3 linked regions of the Homo sapiens genome follow. The protein of the gene in region 1 interacts with the protein of each later gene in a pairwise test. Each region holds a gene or a part of one and is shown in the gene's direction. Other genes may lie near its edges.

What was found.
Region 2: the proteins of HDAC4 (region 1) and BICD2 interact in binary tests that used the Homo sapiens proteins (3 or more experiments, as listed by UniProt).
Region 3: the proteins of HDAC4 (region 1) and CDR2 interact in binary tests that used the Homo sapiens proteins (3 or more experiments, as listed by UniProt).

Annotation. Positions count from the first base shown.
Region 1 is NC_000002.12:239,048,019-239,055,050, reverse strand, and holds the end of HDAC4 (histone deacetylase 4), read left to right. Parts: intron 1-217; coding exon 218-302; intron 303-1,449; coding exon 1,450-1,591; intron 1,592-1,914; coding exon 1,915-1,954; 3' UTR 1,955-6,883; downstream 6,884-7,032. UniProt on the Homo sapiens protein: Responsible for the deacetylation of lysine residues on the N-terminal part of the core histones (H2A, H2B, H3 and H4).
Region 2 is NC_000009.12:92,719,819-92,726,850, reverse strand, and holds part of BICD2 (protein bicaudal D homolog 2), read left to right. Parts: intron 1-4,042; coding exon 4,043-4,195; intron 4,196-6,095; coding exon 6,096-6,551; intron 6,552-7,032. UniProt on the Homo sapiens protein: Acts as an adapter protein linking the dynein motor complex to various cargos and converts dynein from a non-processive to a highly processive motor in the presence of dynactin.
Region 3 is NC_000016.10:22,345,421-22,350,636, reverse strand, and holds the end of CDR2 (cerebellar degeneration-related protein 2), read left to right. Parts: intron 1-787; coding exon 788-936; intron 937-1,193; coding exon 1,194-1,358; intron 1,359-2,813; coding exon 2,814-3,672; 3' UTR 3,673-4,701; downstream 4,702-5,216.

The DNA of each region.
Region 1 (7,032 bases):
ATATCTTATAGCGTCCTAAAAAAAAATCCACTTTTACAAAAAAATTATAAATACCACGGCACATTTGGCTTTTTAAAGTTATTTTTTTCTACTCTGTGGGCAAATGCACCCCACAAGGGTCTCTGTGCTCAGGAAACAGTTGCAGTCTCGGAACACCCGTCTAACGCACGTGTGGATTATATTGGCAGTCTTTATATTCTTATGCATTTTCTTCCAGCTTGATCCTCTCCCAGAAAAGGTTTTACAGCAAAGACCCAATGCAAACGCTGTCCGTTCCATGGAGAAAGTCATGGAGATCCACAGTAAGTTGCCTGGCTGGGTGCTCACAGGGGACACGCCCCTGGGGGTGGGACTGCACCACACCCCATCCCTGTCCCCCTATACCCCCAGCTCTTCTCCATCCCACTGCCGGCTGCTTCCCCAGGCCTGCAGCAGAAGGCCTTGCTTTCAGCTGCATTTCTTGAGCTGGTAGAGACTCACATTTAACCCCGACTGGATTTCCCCCGGCCTGCTGGGATGGTTCCATCAGCCCAATTTGTAAGTCTAGAGAATCAAGGCCCAGACAGTCTCAGTGTGGAGTCACTTGCTCTAGGTCCCCAGCTAGCAGCGGGGGCCATGGCTGTGAGCCTGTACCCTGGGGACTCCGGCCTCTTCCCTGGACCAGAGAAGCCCACGTCCTGACCTCAAAGAACCCTTGGCCCTGCAGAGAGGCAGGGTGTAGGCCCTCTGAGTTCTGGCACCGACCCTCAAGCAGCAGGTCCTGGGTGCAAGGGCGTGGCACGCAGCCTATCTCAGAGGCGCCTCCCACACCCTGTCATTGTCGCAAGCCCAGCTTGTCTTGCCTTTGAGATGACCCAGATGGTTGAGACTGTCCACAGAAGCAGGGGTAGTCCAGAGCTCAGCTCCCCGTTTCCCTGTGTGAGGGAGTCCTGGCTTCAGAGCCCTGAAGCTGACCCTGGGCCAGGCCCAGCCCTCCACATACACCCCCTTGCGCCTGACGCAGTACCCCTCCACCCCCAGCCTCTGTGAGGGCCCAGGCAGAAGACCCCTCAGCCCCAGCGACAATCCCCCAGCTCACCTGCTCCCAGAGATAGGAAGGCTCAACCCAGCAGGCTGGCAGCCCCCTGCCCTGGCCACCCAGGGCAGAAAGGGGCCCGTGAGCGTGGAAAGCCAGGCCTACAGGAGCCTCCCTCTGCAGTCCTAGGTGGGCCTGCTCCTGGAGGGACTCGAGCCACTCACAATGGGGAAACATTTCCAGAGATTTTTTGGGTCTTTGTGAGTTTGTAGCCATGCAGTCTTCTGCTTCGTGTCTCTTCAAAGACGGGTGCTTTTAAAATCATAAGGGATCAATCTGGTTTGAGGCTCAGGGTCCCGCAGGACCTTCCCGGGCCTCAGTGCATCCTGCTAAGTTGTAGTCACTGAGCGACTTTCCTCACCCCACCACCCCAGGCAAGTACTGGCGCTGCCTGCAGCGCACAACCTCCACAGCGGGGCGTTCTCTGATCGAGGCTCAGACTTGCGAGAACGAAGAAGCCGAGACGGTCACCGCCATGGCCTCGCTGTCCGTGGGCGTGAAGCCCGCCGAAAAGAGGTGAGCACCTGCCCTGCCGCCCGCCTGCAGGCTCACCCAGCCCCACTGTGCCCACTGACACACTATTCAGGGTCAGAACCTTTATGGCACATGCCCTGCCCAACAGACTAGAGACAGGCCAGTGTGGCCCCCTCCTTCCAGTGCCAAAGCCCCTTAGAGACGCATGAGGAGCATTAGATCCTGAACAGATGGACCCGGGGCTGCCAGGCCAGGGCTAGGCTGGCGGGTGGGGCAGCACACAGCCTTTAACCCACGTTCTGTTCTCTCCTCTCTGTGGTGCACCTGCCCCACGCCCCCATCTCCTTCTCTTGCGGGATCCACAGACCAGATGAGGAGCCCATGGAAGAGGAGCCGCCCCTGTAGCACTCCCTCGAAGCTGCTGTTCTCTTGTCTGTCTGTCTCTGTCTTGAAGCTCAGCCAAGAAACTTTCCCGTGTCACGCCTGCGTCCCACCGTGGGGCTCTCTTGGAGCACCCAGGGACACCCAGCGTGCAACAGCCACGGGAAGCCTTTCTGCCGCCCAGGCCCACAGGTCTCGAGACGCACATGCACGCCTGGGCGTGGCAGCCTCACAGGGAACACGGGACAGACGCCGGCGACGCGCAGACACACGGACACGCGGAAGCCAAGCACACTCTGGCGGGTCCCGCAAGGGACGCCGTGGAAGAAAGGAGCCTGTGGCAACAGGCGGCCGAGCTGCCGAATTCAGTTGACACGAGGCACAGAAAACAAATATCAAAGATCTAATAATACAAAACAAACTTGATTAAAACTGGTGCTTAAAGTTTATTACCCACAACTCCACAGTCTCTGTGTAAACCACTCGACTCATCTTGTAGCTTATTTTTTTTTAAAGAGGACGTTTTCTACGGCTGTGGCCCGCCTCTGTGAACCATAGCGGTGTGCGGCGGGGGGTCTGCACCCGGGTGGGGGACAGAGGGACCTTTAAAGAAAACAAAACTGGACAGAAACAGGAATGTGAGCTGGGGGAGCTGGCTTGAGTTTCTCAAAAGCCATCGGAAGATGCGAGTTTGTGCCTTTTTTTTTATTGCTCTGGTGGATTTTTGTGGCTGGGTTTTCTGAAGTCTGAGGAACAATGCCTTAAGAAAAAACAAACAGCAGGAATCGGTGGGACAGTTTCCTGTGGCCAGCCGAGCCTGGCAGTGCTGGCACCGCGAGCTGGCCTGACGCCTCAAGCACGGGCACCAGCCGTCATCTCCGGGGCCAGGGGCTGCAGCCCGGCGGTCCCTGTTTTGCTTTATTGCTGTTTAAGAAAAATGGAGGTAGTTCCAAAAAAGTGGCAAATCCCGTTGGAGGTTTTGAAGTCCAACAAATTTTAAACGAATCCAAAGTGTTCTCACACGTCACATACGATTGAGCATCTCCATCTGGTCGTGAAGCATGTGGTAGGCACACTTGCAGTGTTACGATCGGAATGCTTTTTATTAAAAGCAAGTAGCATGAAGTATTGCTTAAATTTTAGGTATAAATAAATATATATATGTATAATATATATTCCAATGTATTCCAAGCTAAGAAACTTACTTGATTCTTATGAAATCTTGATAAAATATTTATAATGCATTTATAGAAAAAGTATATATATATATATAAAATGAATGCAGATTGCGAAGGTCCCTGCAAATGGATGGCTTGTGAATTTGCTCTCAAGGTGCTTATGGAAAGGGATCCTGATTGATTGAAATTCATGTTTTCTCAAGCTCCAGATTGGCTAGATTTCAGATCGCCAACACATTCGCCACTGGGCAACTACCCTACAAGTTTGTACTTTCATTTTAATTATTTTCTAACAGAACCGCTCCCGTCTCCAAGCCTTCATGCACATATGTACCTAATGAGTTTTTATAGCAAAGAATATAAATTTGCTGTTGATTTTTGTATGAATTTTTTCACAAAAAGATCCTGAATAAGCATTGTTTTATGAATTTTACATTTTTCCTCACCATTTAGCAATTTTCTGAATGGTAATAATGTCTAAATCTTTTTCCTTTCTGAATTCTTGCTTGTACATTTTTTTTTACCTTTCAAAGGTTTTTAATTATTTTTGTTTTTATTTTTGTACGATGAGTTTTCTGCAGCGTACAGAATTGTTGCTGTCAGATTCTATTTTCAGAAAGTGAGAGGAGGGACCGTAGGTCTTTTCGGAGTGACACCAACGATTGTGTCTTTCCTGGTCTGTCCTAGGAGCTGTATAAAGAAGCCCAGGGGCTCTTTTTAACTTTCAACACTAGTAGTATTACGAGGGGTGGTGTGTTTTTCCCCTCCGTGGCAAGGGCAGGGAGGGTTGCTTAGGATGCCCGGCCACCCTGGGAGGCTTGCCAGATGCCGGGGGCAGTCAGCATTAATGAAACTCATGTTTAAACTTCTCTGACCACATCGTCAGGATAGAATTCTAACTTGAGTTTTCCAAAGACCTTTTGAGCATGTCAGCAATGCATGGGGCACACGTGGGGCTCTTTACCCACTTGGGTTTTTCCACTGCAGCCACGTGGCCAGCCCTGGATTTTGGAGCCTGTGGCTGCAAGGAACCCAGGGACCCTTGTTGCCTGGTGAACCTGCAGGGAGGGTATGATTGCCTGACCAGGACAGCCAGTCTTTACTCTTTTTCTCTTCAACAGTAACTGACAGTCACGTTTTACTGGTAACTTATTTTCCAGCACATGAAGCCACCAGTTTCATTCCAAAGTGTATATTGGGTTCAGACTTGGGGGCAGAAGTTCAGACACACCGTGCTCAGGAGGGACCCAGAGCCGAGTTTCGGAGTTTGGTAAAGTTTACAGGGTAGCTTCTGAAATTAACTCAAACTTTTGACCAAATGAGTGCAGATTCTTGGATTCACTTGGTCACTGGGCTGCTGATGGTCAGCTCTGAGACAGTGGTTTGAGAGCAGGCAGAACGGTCTTGGGACTTGTTTGACTTTCCCCTCCCTGGTGGCCACTCTTTGCTCTGAAGCCCAGATTGGCAAGAGGAGCTGGTCCATTCCCCATTCATGGCACAGAGCAGTGGCAGGGCCCAGCTAGCAGGCTCTTCTGGCCTCCTTGGCCTCATTCTCTGCATAGCCCTCTGGGGATCCTGCCACCTGCCCTCTTACCCCGCCGTGGCTTATGGGGAGGAATGCATCATCTCACTTTTTTTTTTTAAGCAGATGATGGGATAACATGGACTGCTCAGTGGCCAGGTTATCAGTGGGGGGACTTAATTCTAATCTCATTCAAATGGAGACGCCCTCTGCAAAGGCCTGGCAGGGGGAGGCACGTTTCATCTGTCAGCTCACTCCAGCTTCACAAATGTGCTGAGAGCATTACTGTGTAGCCTTTTCTTTGAAGACACACTCGGCTCTTCTCCACAGCAAGCGTCCAGGGCAGATGGCAGAGGATCTGCCTCGGCGTCTGCAGGCGGGACCACGTCAGGGAGGGTTCCTTCATGTGTTCTCCCTGTGGGTCCTTGGACCTTTAGCCTTTTTCTTCCTTTGCAAAGGCCTTGGGGGCACTGGCTGGGAGTCAGCAAGCGAGCACTTTATATCCCTTTGAGGGAAACCCTGATGACGCCACTGGGCCTCTTGGCGTCTGCCCTGCCCTCGCGGCTTCCCGCCGTGCCGCAGCGTGCCCACGTGCCCACGCCCCACCAGCAGGCGGCTGTCCCGGAGGCCGTGGCCCGCTGGGACTGGCCGCCCCTCCCCAGCGTCCCAGGGCTCTGGTTCTGGAGGGCCACTTTGTCAAGGTGTTTCAGTTTTTCTTTACTTCTTTTGAAAATCTGTTTGCAAGGGGAAGGACCATTTCGTAATGGTCTGACACAAAAGCAAGTTTGATTTTTGCAGCACTAGCAATGGACTTTGTTGTTTTTCTTTTTGATCAGAACATTCCTTCTTTACTGGTCACAGCCACGTGCTCATTCCATTCTTCTTTTTGTAGACTTTGGGCCCACGTGTTTTATGGGCATTGATACATATATAAATATATAGATATAAATATATATGAATATATTTTTTTAAGTTTCCTACACCTGGAGGTTGCATGGACTGTACGACCGGCATGACTTTATATTGTATACAGATTTTGCACGCCAAACTCGGCAGCTTTGGGGAAGAAGAAAAATGCCTTTCTGTTCCCCTCTCATGACATTTGCAGATACAAAAGATGGAAATTTTTCTGTAAAACAAAACCTTGAAGGAGAGGAGGGCGGGGAAGTTTGCGTCTTATTGAACTTATTCTTAAGAAATTGTACTTTTTATTGTAAGAAAAATAAAAAGGACTACTTAAACATTTGTCATATTAAGAAAAAAAGTTTATCTAGCACTTGTGACATACCAATAATAGAGTTTATTGTATTTATGTGGAAACAGTGTTTTAGGGAAACTACTCAGAATTCACAGTGAACTGCCTGTCTCTCTCGAGTTGATTTGGAGGAATTTTGTTTTGTTTTGTTTTGTTTGTTTCCTTTTATCTCCTTCCACGGGCCAGGCGAGCGCCGCCCGCCCTCACTGGCCTTGTGACGGTTTATTCTGATTGAGAACTGGGCGGACTCGAAAGAGTCCCCTTTTCCGCACAGCTGTGTTGACTTTTTAATTACTTTTAGGTGATGTATGGCTAAGATTTCACTTTAAGCAGTCGTGAACTGTGCGAGCACTGTGGTTTACAATTATACTTTGCATCGAAAGGAAACCATTTCTTCATTGTAACGAAGCTGAGCGTGTTCTTAGCTCGGCCTCACTTTGTCTCTGGCATTGATTAAAAGTCTGCTATTGAAAGAAAAAGAAAGCGAACAGTTTTTGTTTGTTTTTTTTGCCGTGTGTGCTCCATAGTGGAGGCGCTATTTTCCAATTGATGAGAATGACAAACATATATAATCTATCTATCTATCTATCTATCTATCTATCTATACAGGGGGCTTGAACCTTACTCACCCAAGAGCTTCTTACGGAATGTGGTAGAAAACCAAGTTGTAACGACACTGTAACCTACCTGATGCCTGTTCGCGCCCGCCGTGAGCTGCGCACTGGCCGTGGCCACCATTCACCTCTGTAATTTAATCCGTTTCTCTTGGATTGTCTGGACGTGCCCGATGGTTCTTTCTTTTGCTCAGTGGAGTTGGAGGTTTTGTGTTTGGTTTTCTCATTCTTGTCTTGTTTTGTGTGGGTGGATTTTCACCGACCAATGATATCCTCTTCTGACGGTCACCTTCTTTCCACTTCACTGGAGTCCAGTATTCTGTACCACATCACGCAACGTGTTATCTTGTGGTGTAAATAAAGACTGCGTTACTTGCCCTCCCAGCTCTGGTTTCTGCCCGTGCGCTCTCTTCCTCATTGGCTCTCGCATGTCTGGGACCCTGTGGGCCGAATGGCCAGTGCCCTGGGTCCCATCCGGATGGCTGCATGGGAATCACTGGACCCCATGGGGACGGCCCCTAGACCCAGACCAG
Region 2 (7,032 bases), on another chromosome or scaffold:
GCACAGCAAGTTAAAGATGCTGCAGGTCTTGTGGGGAAGAGAGGATTTCTGTGGTTCCTGTTTGTGCTTCAGGAGGAAATCCTGAGACTCCCTGCACACCCCTCAGCCTTCCCTGTCTCTCCTGAGGGTCCCCACCTTGGTCCCTGGGTCTGCTGTGTCCCCCATGACTGTGTCCCTGCCCTGGGTTGCTGCAGAGCTGTGGGAACCATCCCAGGTCTTCGCCTTGGGTACCTGGTTCGGGTGGAGCATCTCTAGGACTGACCTTGTCTCACCACCACCAGTCCCAGTCATGCATAGCTCTTGTCTTCTGCTGCCTGCTGTTCTGCTGGTCTGAGCCACTGTGCCAAGCTTCTCTGTGCCCACCCCCAGCGTGGCTTTCCCCAGTCACTGCCCAAGGCTCACACCCCATGGGTCAGAAAGGGTACATTTGACGATAAAACAGCCTTCATTGTATCCTTTGACCCACCACCCTGCTACCCACAACAGCCCCTCCCCTTTTTTCCTCCCTTGGGTCAACTGGTTGTCTGTCCCCCTCCACACCCCAACACACCATGAGGACCTGTGAAGCTTTACAGTAACAAACATATTTGGCATGTGTTGGACAGTTCTGATTGCCTCAGACCTGGTCCTTCTGGTGACCCTACTGGTATCTCGTCAGATGTGAAGAAACAGAGGTTTGCAAGGTTCCATCATGTGCCTAAGGTGTCCTGGCTGGTAGGGGGTGAGGTGCTTCTCAGATCCTGACTCTAACCGCTGTGTATGTGTGGGCCCTACATGTGGGCAGCCCCTCCAGCTTCTCTCCTGCTAGTGAGAGCATCTTTCCTGCCTGGGCCCCTGGGAGGTGGGTAAGCTTCTGAGGACTGGCCTGGATTGGGCCTTGGTGGGGATGTGGCTCCATTTCCCAGATGGGGAATCAGAGGCCCAGAGAGCCACAGGAGGCCTGGGGTCAGAGCTGGGTCTCATACACACACCAAGATCTTTCTTCATATTTGCCCCAAGAAGGAGTAGGGTGAAGGGGCTGGCCTAGGCCATCAAGGCAGAGATGAGAGTTTCCTGGTGTTGAGGTTGTCTGGTGGGGACAGGAGAGAGGGCAGCCGACCCCCTGCACAGTGGCTCCTTGAAACAGGCAATTGTCACACCCTGCTTGCTGATGAGCAGTCTGAGGTGTGGGGATCCCACAAAGGGGAGTTGAGATGGGACCCTGGTGGTCAGCTACAGGCCTGTGCTCCCACCTCCTTCATTTGGGCTGCCCAGTCACACGCAGCAGAGCTTGTCCCCTGTACTTCTTTGGGCTGACATCAGACAGGCTCACTGGGAGAAGGTGCTTACTTGAGGGAAAACTAAACCCCATGGCGACCAGTCAGCCTGTTTGAGCCCTTGGCAATTGGCCGTGTGCTGGATGGAGGTGCTAGGTGGCAGGCCACATGAGCCTGGCTGCCTACGCCCAGTAGTGTGGGCATGGAAGCACAGTGTTTGCGTCCTACTACAGCATCAGCAGAGATGGTGCCATCATCACCCATGACATGGTATGGCCAGGCCAGCATTTGACCTGGGTGTGCCTCTGTGTTCTGGGTTTGGCAGTGGTGCAAGGACAGAACTCCTAGTACACCTTGCCTGGGCCAGGTGATGAAGGACCCTGAGGACTCACATGAGCACTGCCAAGGGAACAGCAGTCTCGTGTGTGCCTCTGGGGGACCCTAATGGTATGAGGCATCTGGCCAGGCTCTCTGCTTCAGTCTTTAGTTGGGCATGTCACTATCTCCCTGCCCAGGCACATGGAAGCTTCTGGGCTCTCACTTCCCACTGCCTGGAGCACCTTCTAGGTTTGTTGATCTTGACTGGCAGGCCTGGGAGAGTTGGTGGGACTCAGACCTTCCCCTCAGCTTCCACTCCGCCTGAGGAGCCGGCTGGGTGGCCGCGTTGAATCAAGTGGCACATGTTTGCACACCTGCTGCAGACCACTTGCTTGCCAGTTAGCAAGGAAAAAGCAGGAACTGGGCAAACCTTTCTGGCAGAGAGGTACCCAAGTCTCCAGCTGGGGTGTGGAGAGCCTGGGTGTGACTTGGCTTGTGCAGCTCCCCTAAGCACACTCCTGGGGGGTGCTGCACTCTCACTAGCAGGAGAGAGGCTGGAGAGCCTGCCCACTCCCTATCCACCCCCCGTGTAGCCACTGTGGGGCCCGGCCCTGGTGATGGCTGTGCTGGTGCTGCTTTCTCCCGCTTCGTCCCAGCATGCACCTCGCTCACTTTCTCCTCTGGTACAAGGCTTTGCCAGGCCTTCTCTTCCTCCCTGTGTGGTATCTCTGTTTCTTTTGGTGTCAGCTTTCTGTCACTTCCTTGGGTCACTTATAATGAGAGGGCCATGTCTGCGTCCATTTGCTGTAGGTTTTAAATGTAATCTTCATTGTAAATAGTAAGCATTTGTCAGTAGTACTTGCTGTATATTGTTGACTCTCCTCCCCTCTCTGTTGCATTCCTTTTTTCCTTTGTTTTGGGAGGGATGTCCTATTTCATTTTGCCAGTATGATCGTTTTGTGTGTACTTGCATGGGATCTTGGAATCTTGTCTATAAAGTATGTTCCATTCAGATGAGTGCACACATGTGACCAGGAGAAACCATAGCATAAGCCAAGAGAACAGTGTGAGAGGTGGGCGAAGCTATGGGGCCCGCAAGATGGACAGGGCTTCTGGCCGAGAGTCCAAGAGGGCTTTGGAGCAGGGGTGGTGATGGTCTGGGGAGCCAGGCCTTTGCAGATACACAGGGAGGCAGCTGGGTCAGCAGAGTACAGGGAGGGGATAGAGAGTTTGTCAAGGGGATGATTTTGCCCCTGGGGGACATTGGCAACGTCTGGAGAGATTTTTCAGTTGTCACAATGGAGGAGGCAGCCGTGTCTGGTGGCCAGAGGTCAGGGAGCTGCTAGACATATGATGTACAGGCCGGCTCCCACCACAAAGAAGAAACGTCCCTGAATGTTGCTAGGGCTGCGGCTGAGGGGCCCAGGTCCCTGGCACATGGCAGCAAGTTGGAAATTCTGTCTTGATTGCATCCTGTTTGCCCCAACCCTGCACTAGCCTCTCCCATGACATCTCTTGGCTCCTTATGGGCAACTTAGAGCCTGAACTAATTTTTAACAGCTTTATTCAGGTGATTTACATCTCATATAGTTCACCCACATAAGGTGTACAACTCAGTGTATTTTATGATAGTCACATATATGTGCCCCATTCCACAATCTTAGAACAGTTCATTGCTCCAAAAAGAAAACCCATTTCAGTCACTCCCCATCCCCCTCCCCAGCTCCTGGCAGCCACTAACCTACTTTGTGTCTCTATGAATTTGCCTATTCTGGATATTTCATGGAAATGGAATCATATAATGCATGGCCTCTCGTGACAGGCCTTCTTTCACTCAGCAGAATGTGTTCACGGGTCATTCATGTTGTAGCATGTGTCAGTACGTCATTCCTTATTGTGGCTGAACAACATTCCATTGTGTGGAGAGACCACATTTTGTTTATTCATTCATCAGTCAATGGGCACTTGGGCTGCTTCCACCTTTTGGCAAAATGAACGCTGCTGCTGTGAACATGTGTGGACCGGTTTCTGTGTGGGCATGTGTACATTTCTCTGGGGTAGACCCTCTGTGTTTAACAGTTGCAGCACCTGCAGGCTGTTTGCCAGAGCACTATACCATTTATATGCCCACCTGCGCACTACTGTGTACATGCCCAATAATAGAAGGCAGGAACTACTTTTAACCCCATTTTAATTTAAAGATGAAGAAACCAAGGGTCGGAGCAGGCAGTCACGGGTTCCCAGGTGAGAAGGGCTGAGGGAATTTACTCTGGAACCTCTGCAGTCCGCTGTGCACTCTGGCATACTGCTCTGGGCTCCCTCTCCTCTCCAGGCAGTCACACTGGCACCTGCAGGCCAGGGCTCTTGAGTTCTGGCTGTATGGCTGGCCATGGCGTGCCTGGCTGCACTGAGCCCCTCTCGTGCCCTGTGGAGGCTGCTCATACCTGCCTTTCCCTCTCCCCCAACAGATCAACCAGAATGTGGAGATCCAGCGTGGCCGCCTGCGGGATGACATCAAGGAGTACAAATTCCGGGAAGCTCGTCTGCTGCAGGACTACTCGGAACTGGAGGAGGAGAACATCAGCCTGCAGAAGCAAGTGTCTGTGCTCAGACAGAACCAGGTGAGTCTTGGGCCTGTGGGGTGGAGGTGGCACGTGGGTTAACTGGGCCTTGAGGACCTCTTGCTCAGCCCCTCTCCCTGTTGGGAAGGGGTTCCTGTCTTATTCCACACACCCGAGGCCCAGGGCCAGCTTTACCACTGTGGAGGCAGGGGTATACTTGGTGGGACCCAGACTCTCCAAAAGATGAAACTCTGGCTGCAGTGTTTGCTGACATTGGCCAGGCTGAGGTGTCCCAGCCAACAAAAATGAAAACAAAAATCTGAGAGGTAATGAAGAGGTTACACCAGAAAACCCCAGATTGGACTTTGAGACTCCCCCATCAGGTGCTGACCATGAGGCCTGCAATATTCCTGTGTCTCTGCCTGTGACAGGGACAAGGAAGGTCCTCTCTGTCTGTGACGGGGATGAACAGGAACCCCTCTGTCTCTAATGGGGTCTCAGAGGGACCCCTGACAGGGACGAGTAGGGTCTCTGCCTGTGACAGAGATGAATAAGGAGGGTCCCTTCTCTTTGTGATGTGACTAAATTGTCATGTGCTCTGCTGTTCTGCCACTCAAGGCCTGAACTTGCTCTTCTCTCTGCAAGAGCCACACTCCTGCATGGTGGGGAATGGGAGTCTTTTCTCTCCCAAAACTTTCCCCAGAATGCCATGGATGTCTTCCTTGCTTTCCTCAAATCCTCTACCACCAAAATCCTCTGAGTCTCACCATCAGGGAATGTGGTATTTATGCCCGGAGGAGGAAGCTCATGTGTTTATGCAGAGCTCCTAGCCTGGTCCTTCTGTGACAGCTCGAGCTCATTAACAGTCTTAGCCACTGTCTACATTGTAAGTACCATTTGGTCATTGGTGCTGCTGTTGGCAGAGCCCAGCGCATGGTGGCCTTAGGAGAAGGGAAACTGAGGCTTGAGGCGACCCTGTCCTCAGGTTGGCGCTTAGTGGAGTCTGACTCTCTCTCCCTCTCTGGGATTCCTCACCTCCGCATTTGTGGTGCTGGGACTGAGGGCTCCATGCCCACCTCCTGTGAGCACACCTTGGATGTGGTAATGGGTGTCCCTTCCGACCCAAGACCCACAGAGATGTGCTCAGCACTTCCTGTTACTGGTTTGTTTCTTATTTTTTTCTCCAAATATTACAGAAAAATAAGAAATAGTTTTAGCAATTGCCCACAAATTCTGAGCCTCCACATCAGGCATCAGTTTCTATCTGCTTTTTCCTTGCCCACCTGCAGATACAATTTTCATGTAGACAAGACTTTGATGTTGCTTTTCCCACCTACCTTCGAGCTCCTCCAGGTCTGGGTGTCATGTGCATGTGGAGGTTTAGTGGTTGAGATGTTCTGCCTTGCGGGGAGTTTCTGTTCCTTCATTTTGAACTATGATTAGAAGTCATGATCATAGCACACATTGAAATATATTTTTATGTATCTTAAGATATTTAGTTAACTGTTAATGTTAATTAAATAACTTTATAGAATTTTTAATCAGCATGCACTTGGTAATATTTGTGAATGACTTAATACAAGGTTGGCAGCCTTCTATGGATGGATGTGTGTTGTTCTTGGTGCATCTCCACACGTACAGTCCTGGCTTGGGGCCACCTCAGACATTTGTGCTCCCCTTGCTGTGTCTGCTGGTCCCAGCGGTGGGTGGGCTGGGCTGAGCATTTCATTGCATTCGCATCTCATGCCCTGGAACCTTCTTAGCATCCACATCTCTGAGCAGAGGAAGCAGTCTTGGCCTGGACGGGCTGCCACCCTTCCCAGGATGGCACCTCACCTGGCGCTTCATCTTTTGCTTCATAGTGGCCGGAGTTGGTGTGCTGGTGTGTTTTCTTCATTTATGGGGCCTGAAAGGAGCTTCCACATTGCATTGATGCAAGAGCGTTGACTTCTCTTCCCAGGTGGAGTTTGAGGGCCTCAAGCATGAGATCAAGCGTCTGGAGGAGGAGACCGAGTACCTCAACAGCCAGCTGGAGGATGCCATCCGCCTCAAGGAGATCTCAGAGCGGCAGCTGGAGGAGGCGCTGGAGACCCTGAAGACGGAGCGCGAACAGAAGAACAGCCTGCGCAAGGAGCTGTCACACTACATGAGCATCAATGACTCCTTCTACACCAGCCACCTGCATGTCTCGCTGGATGGCCTCAAGTTCAGTGACGATGCTGCCGAGCCCAACAACGATGCCGAGGCCCTGGTCAATGGCTTTGAGCACGGCGGCCTGGCCAAGCTGCCACTGGACAACAAGACCTCCACGCCCAAGAAGGAGGGCCTCGCACCGCCCTCCCCCAGCCTCGTCTCCGACCTACTCAGTGAGCTCAACATCTCTGAGATCCAGAAGCTGAAGCAGCAGCTGATGCAGGTGAGCAGGCAGTGGGGCCTTCGGCACGCTGTCCCCACTCCAGGTCTGCAGGGCTCCCCGAGCAGTGCTTACCTGACACTCTGCTGATGTTAACTTTCCCTTTTCCTTACGTTGATTTTATCTCCTGCATCATTACGGTAAATGGAACTCCAGGAGCACACATAGAGGAGTCTCAGAGAAGTGGTTTCCTGGCACTGCAGCACCCACATTGCTCCCCTGTTAACTACGTGGTGTCAGGGTGAAGTGATGAGACACTGGCCCACATGTGATCCCTGCACGCAGGCCAGGTGTCAGGGGCCCACCATGGTCATGCTTGGGCTCATCCCCTGGGACATGGATCCCTGTTGATCCAAGGCAACAGAGTCCTGTCCTCCGAAGCAGAGGGCTAGGGTGCTAATATTCCCGACTACACACCCAGCCAGCCTAGAGCTCCACTTTCTTAGCCCAGATCCCCTGTAGCATGGTTGGGGAAAGAGCCTGC
Region 3 (5,216 bases), on another chromosome or scaffold:
GAGTTTAATTTCTTCTTTTCTTAAAATAAACATATGGTATTGTGGTATAATAAAAATTATATATTTGGTCTTTGTCCCTGGTTTCTGGCATAGAACTCCTAAAACCCTTGGAATTTCCTGATAGGTTGAGGTCTGGTCACCAGAGAAGGCAACCACATGATTAGAGGGTTAGATCTATCAGTCCCAGCCCCACAACCTCTGGATAGAGGGAAGGGTTGGAGCTTGAGTTCAGTCACCAATGGCCAATAATTGAATCAATCATGCTGATGTGAGAGAAGACCTGGAGAAAACTGAAATGGGTCTAAAGGAGCTTCTGGGCAGTGCTGGGAGGCCAGTGAGCCCAGAGATGGAGACTCTATGTCAGCCCCACCCCAACAAGAGTTGGTGCTGACAATCGGAGAATTGGTGTTGGAACAGCAGAACAGCAGGTATCTTTTTTTTTTTTTTGAGATGGAGTTTCATTCTTGTTGCCCAGGCTGGAGTGCAATGGCGCCATCTCGGCTCATTGCAACCTCTGTCTTCCAGGTTCAAGCAATTTTCCTGCCTCAGCCTCCCAAGTAGCTGGGATTACAGGCGTGTGCCACCACACCTGGCTAATTTTTGTATTTTTAGTGGAGACGGGGTTTCAGCATGTTGGTCAGGCTGGTCTCGAATTCCTAACCTCAGGTGATCCACACGTCTTGGCCTCCCAAAGTGCTGGGATTACAGGCGTGAGCCACCGCAGCCAGCCAAGAAACAGCAGGTATCTTATCTGTTTGTGTCACCTGGTCCTGATCTTCTCTTACAGTATCTGACGAAGCAAGTGGAACTTCTACGGCAGATGAACGAACAACATGCAAAGGTTTATGAACAATTAGACGTCACAGCAAGGGAACTGGAAGAAACAAATCAAAAGCTAGTTGCTGACAGCAAGGCCTCACAGCAAAAGATTCTGAGGTAAATTTTCTAGAATCTGACAAGGAAGGACTAGGGGGAAGTTCTTTAGTATAAACTAGAATAGAACATGGCTGCAGTGGGTTTGGGTCAATATGGGATAAGGTTTAATTTAATTCTTTTTGGAGAATGGAGATTAAATAGACATCCTTTCCAATTAAGAAAGCCCAGTGTGAGTGGTTTGCACCTAATCTCTCCTCACCGCTTTTGCCCTTGATTCAATATGACAAGCAGCAGTGGCTTCTGTCTGTTCCTCACAGCCTGACTGAAACGATTGAATGCCTGCAAACCAACATTGATCACCTCCAGAGCCAAGTGGAGGAGCTGAAGTCATCTGGCCAAGGGAGAAGGAGCCCGGGAAAGTGTGACCAGGAGAAACCGGCACCCAGCTTTGCATGTCTGAAGGAGCTGTATGACCTCCGCCAGTAAGAGCCTGCCTTTCTGTGGAGTTACAGCAGGGACTGTCTCATGTCATTGGCACATTCTGATTTCCAGTAGATTGAAAGTACCATTTTAAGAAAAGTCACTTAGCTATTAAGCTACCATTGGTTTGAACAAAATCACTTAAACATATAAATTACAGAGTTCTTAGATATTAGTAGTTCTCATTTTGAAAGTCTTGGAACACTTATTTCAGTGTTTTTAATGTATTAAATCATAGTTTAAGATGAATTCTGATAGACTAGATTTGGGAGTTGTGTTTTACATTAGAGTGAAGAAAAACAGAAATACTGGTAAAACAAAAATTCAAGCGAACAGGAGATTTTTTGCTTAAAGAAGTACCTTTATAATTTAGAGTTATAAGTCTGAATCTTTAAGAAGTATTTATGGAACACTTGTGTGGCAAGCTGTATGCTAGACCCAAGGGTTGGCGAGCAAAATAGTTTCTACCCCTGTGAGCTTTCAGTCTAACGGAACGGCAGATAAGCAAATAAAAACACAAATAAATAGTCAAGGTGCTTCAGACTGAGCAGGAGAAACCAGGTGGTTCATTTGGTGGGTCTCAACCTTGGCTGTACATCAGATCACCTGTGGGGTTTTTCAAAATGCAAATACCAACACATTTCCTCAGGCCTAAATCAGAATTTCTAGGTGCGGGTAAAAAGCTGCCCAGGCAATTCTGATGAACATTCCTGGTTAAAAATCACCACAGCAACAGTAATTTGCTGTAGTGATTCAATCGTAGTTACATATTATGAATCATTTGGAGAGCCTTTAGAAACCCTCAGGCCAGGTAGCAGACCAACTAGGTTGGAATCTGTGGGTTGGGACCCAGGCACCAGTACTTTTTAAGGTTTCCCTTGTGAGGTCATTGTCATACTGCTAGAATAGATGTTCTCTAGTACTTTTAACATTAAAAAAAGATTTGTCACAAAAATTGAGTTTGCTTTCATGTGTTTATTTACCAGCCTCACACAATTCCATTTTAGCCACTGCTCCAAGTGTGGCTAAAAACCAATCACTGTTGGCCGGGTGTGGTGGCTTACGTCTGTAATCCCAGCACTTTGGGAGGCTAAGGCAGGAGGATCACCTGAGGTTGGGAGTTCGAGACCAGCCTGACCAACATGGAGAAACCCCGTCTCTACTAAAAATACAAAATTAGCTGGGCGTGGTGGCGCATGTCTAAAATCCCAGTTACTCGGGAGGCTGAGGCAGGAGAATCGCTTGAACCTGGGAGGCTGAGGTTGCAATGAGCTGAGATCGCTTCACTGCACTCCAGCCTGGCGACAAAGTGAGACTCCGTCTCAAAAAAAAAGAAAAAAAAATTAGTCACTGTCACAGCTCCTCAAATTTATTTAGTTGAAAAAAAATCACCAGTCTTCCTCTCGTCATTTTCAGTGGACCTGTGTAATATATTCTTTCAATATTTTTTTCCCTAGACACTTCGTGTATGATCATGTGTTCGCTGAGAAGATCACTTCCTTGCAAGGTCAGCCAAGCCCTGATGAAGAGGAAAATGAGCACTTGAAAAAAACAGTGACAATGTTGCAGGCCCAGCTGAGCCTGGAGCGGCAGAAGCGGGTGACTATGGAGGAGGAATATGGGCTCGTGTTAAAGGAGAACAGTGAACTGGAGCAGCAGCTGGGGGCCACAGGTGCCTACCGAGCACGGGCGCTGGAACTAGAGGCCGAGGTGGCAGAGATGCGACAGATGTTGCAGTCAGAGCATCCATTTGTGAATGGAGTTGAGAAGCTGGTGCCAGACTCTCTGTATGTTCCTTTCAAAGAGCCCAGCCAGAGCCTGCTGGAAGAGATGTTCCTGACTGTGCCGGAATCACATAGAAAGCCTCTCAAGCGCAGCAGCAGTGAGACGATCCTCAGCAGCTTGGCAGGGAGTGACATCGTGAAGGGCCACGAGGAGACCTGCATCAGGAGGGCCAAGGCTGTGAAACAGAGGGGCATCTCCCTTCTGCACGAAGTGGACACGCAGTACAGCGCCCTGAAGGTGAAGTATGAAGAGTTGCTGAAGAAGTGCCAAGAGGAACAGGACTCCCTGTCACACAAGGCTGTGCAGACCTCCAGGGCTGCAGCCAAGGACCTGACTGGAGTGAACGCCCAGTCTGAGCCTGTTGCCAGCGGCTGGGAACTGGCCTCTGTCAACCCAGAGCCCGTGAGTTCCCCTACAACACCTCCAGAATACAAAGCGTTGTTTAAGGAGATCTTTAGTTGCATCAAGAAAACTAAGCAGGAAATAGATGAACAGAGAACAAAATACCGATCACTCTCCTCTCATTCTTAATTGAACCTCTAGCTCTACTACTAATTTGCCTATTGCCTATCGCCTCTCTCTCCCATTCAGACAAGTGTTTGTAGACTCTGAAGCCTAATGTTACTCATGACGTTTGCCTCATTGCTTTGCTTATTTAGCAAATGCATACAACGAGGAAAGGAGGTGGCTAGTGGTATCAGTTCTCTGATCCACTTCCATTTAAGCTCCCCAGGAAATCCCATGACAAACTGGCCTCTGGCTGGCGCGCTGATTAGACTTCAGTTCCTGAAAAGGACCAGTGGAGGGAAGAGCTATACTTCTGGAGAAGTAGGCCTGGAGTTACTACAGTATGGGGGAAAAGGGTCGAGTTAGAACAAAGCTAAGGCAATTCCTATTGCTTCCTTGCGCAACTTCTCAAAACGATGAAAGTCAGAAGGCTGTCAAACTCAAATATCTTTGCAAACAGTTTGAATACTGTGAATTCATTACGAAGAATGTTCGAGAGAAAGCAGGGGTCTAATCCAAAAGAAATGTCATTAACCAATACTCCAAGTCCTTGAGTTTTGTTATATCTGAACTAGTTGAACTGTGACTGACAGGTAATCCTAATATATCCAAATCCAACTGAATACCAAATTGAGATGGCAAATTTTTGTTTGATATAAGTTAGCTTGTTAGCATATGCCCTAGAGGGCCTCCATCCCTGTATTCTAATGTTTTTACTCAAAGCTCTAGCCTTTAGGATAGGTGAATATGTAAATCTTTTATCACTTTCTCAAATTCAAACTAAAGGGGAAAGATCAAACCCCTTCCCTTCCTACCTGTTTTCTGAGCTGGCTGACTTGCCAGCCACAAGCTGCTCTTGCAGAGTTCTTACCATTCCTGTAAATGTTTTGACTTGTTGCAGAAATTCCTATCTACTTTATTAAGCAGTATTGATCTGACTGTGGAAACATCCTCTCACTTGCATTCTTTTAACTTAAAACTATTTAAGAACTGATGTTCCGATTATTGTATATATTTTTCTAAAAACCAAATAAAGCTACCTATGAAAATGAACAGATGGATCTGTGTCTTACTTTCAATATAAGCCATTTCGCTCTTATAACCAACTGTTCACTTTTTTTCTTCCAACAAATATCGCGAGAAAGATTTGCAGTGATTTTTTTTTTCCTATTTTAAACAGGGAATCCTTGGATTTGTGTAACTTAATAGCACAAATTCTGCTCATATTGCTAAATGCTCATTAAAACTACTCTGGACAAACATTTTCAAATTTATATACTCTGTAATTTTCACTATTTCAGAAATGTCAGACTTGGTTCTGAATTAATAGCATTTGACAAATTGATTCTCAAAACATTTGATCAACCATAGCAAAGAAACTATACTATTCAAACTATACTATTCAAACTATACTATTAATGTTTGAATAGTATAGCTTATTTAAAAACAGTTTGCATTTCTATTAATAAGACAATATTTTTTAATCTGTTAGCCATTTGTAGTCTCCTTTGCCTATTTAAAGAGCTCTATTTATATATGCAGTTTTGCAGTTAGAAGTTTGAAAGTGT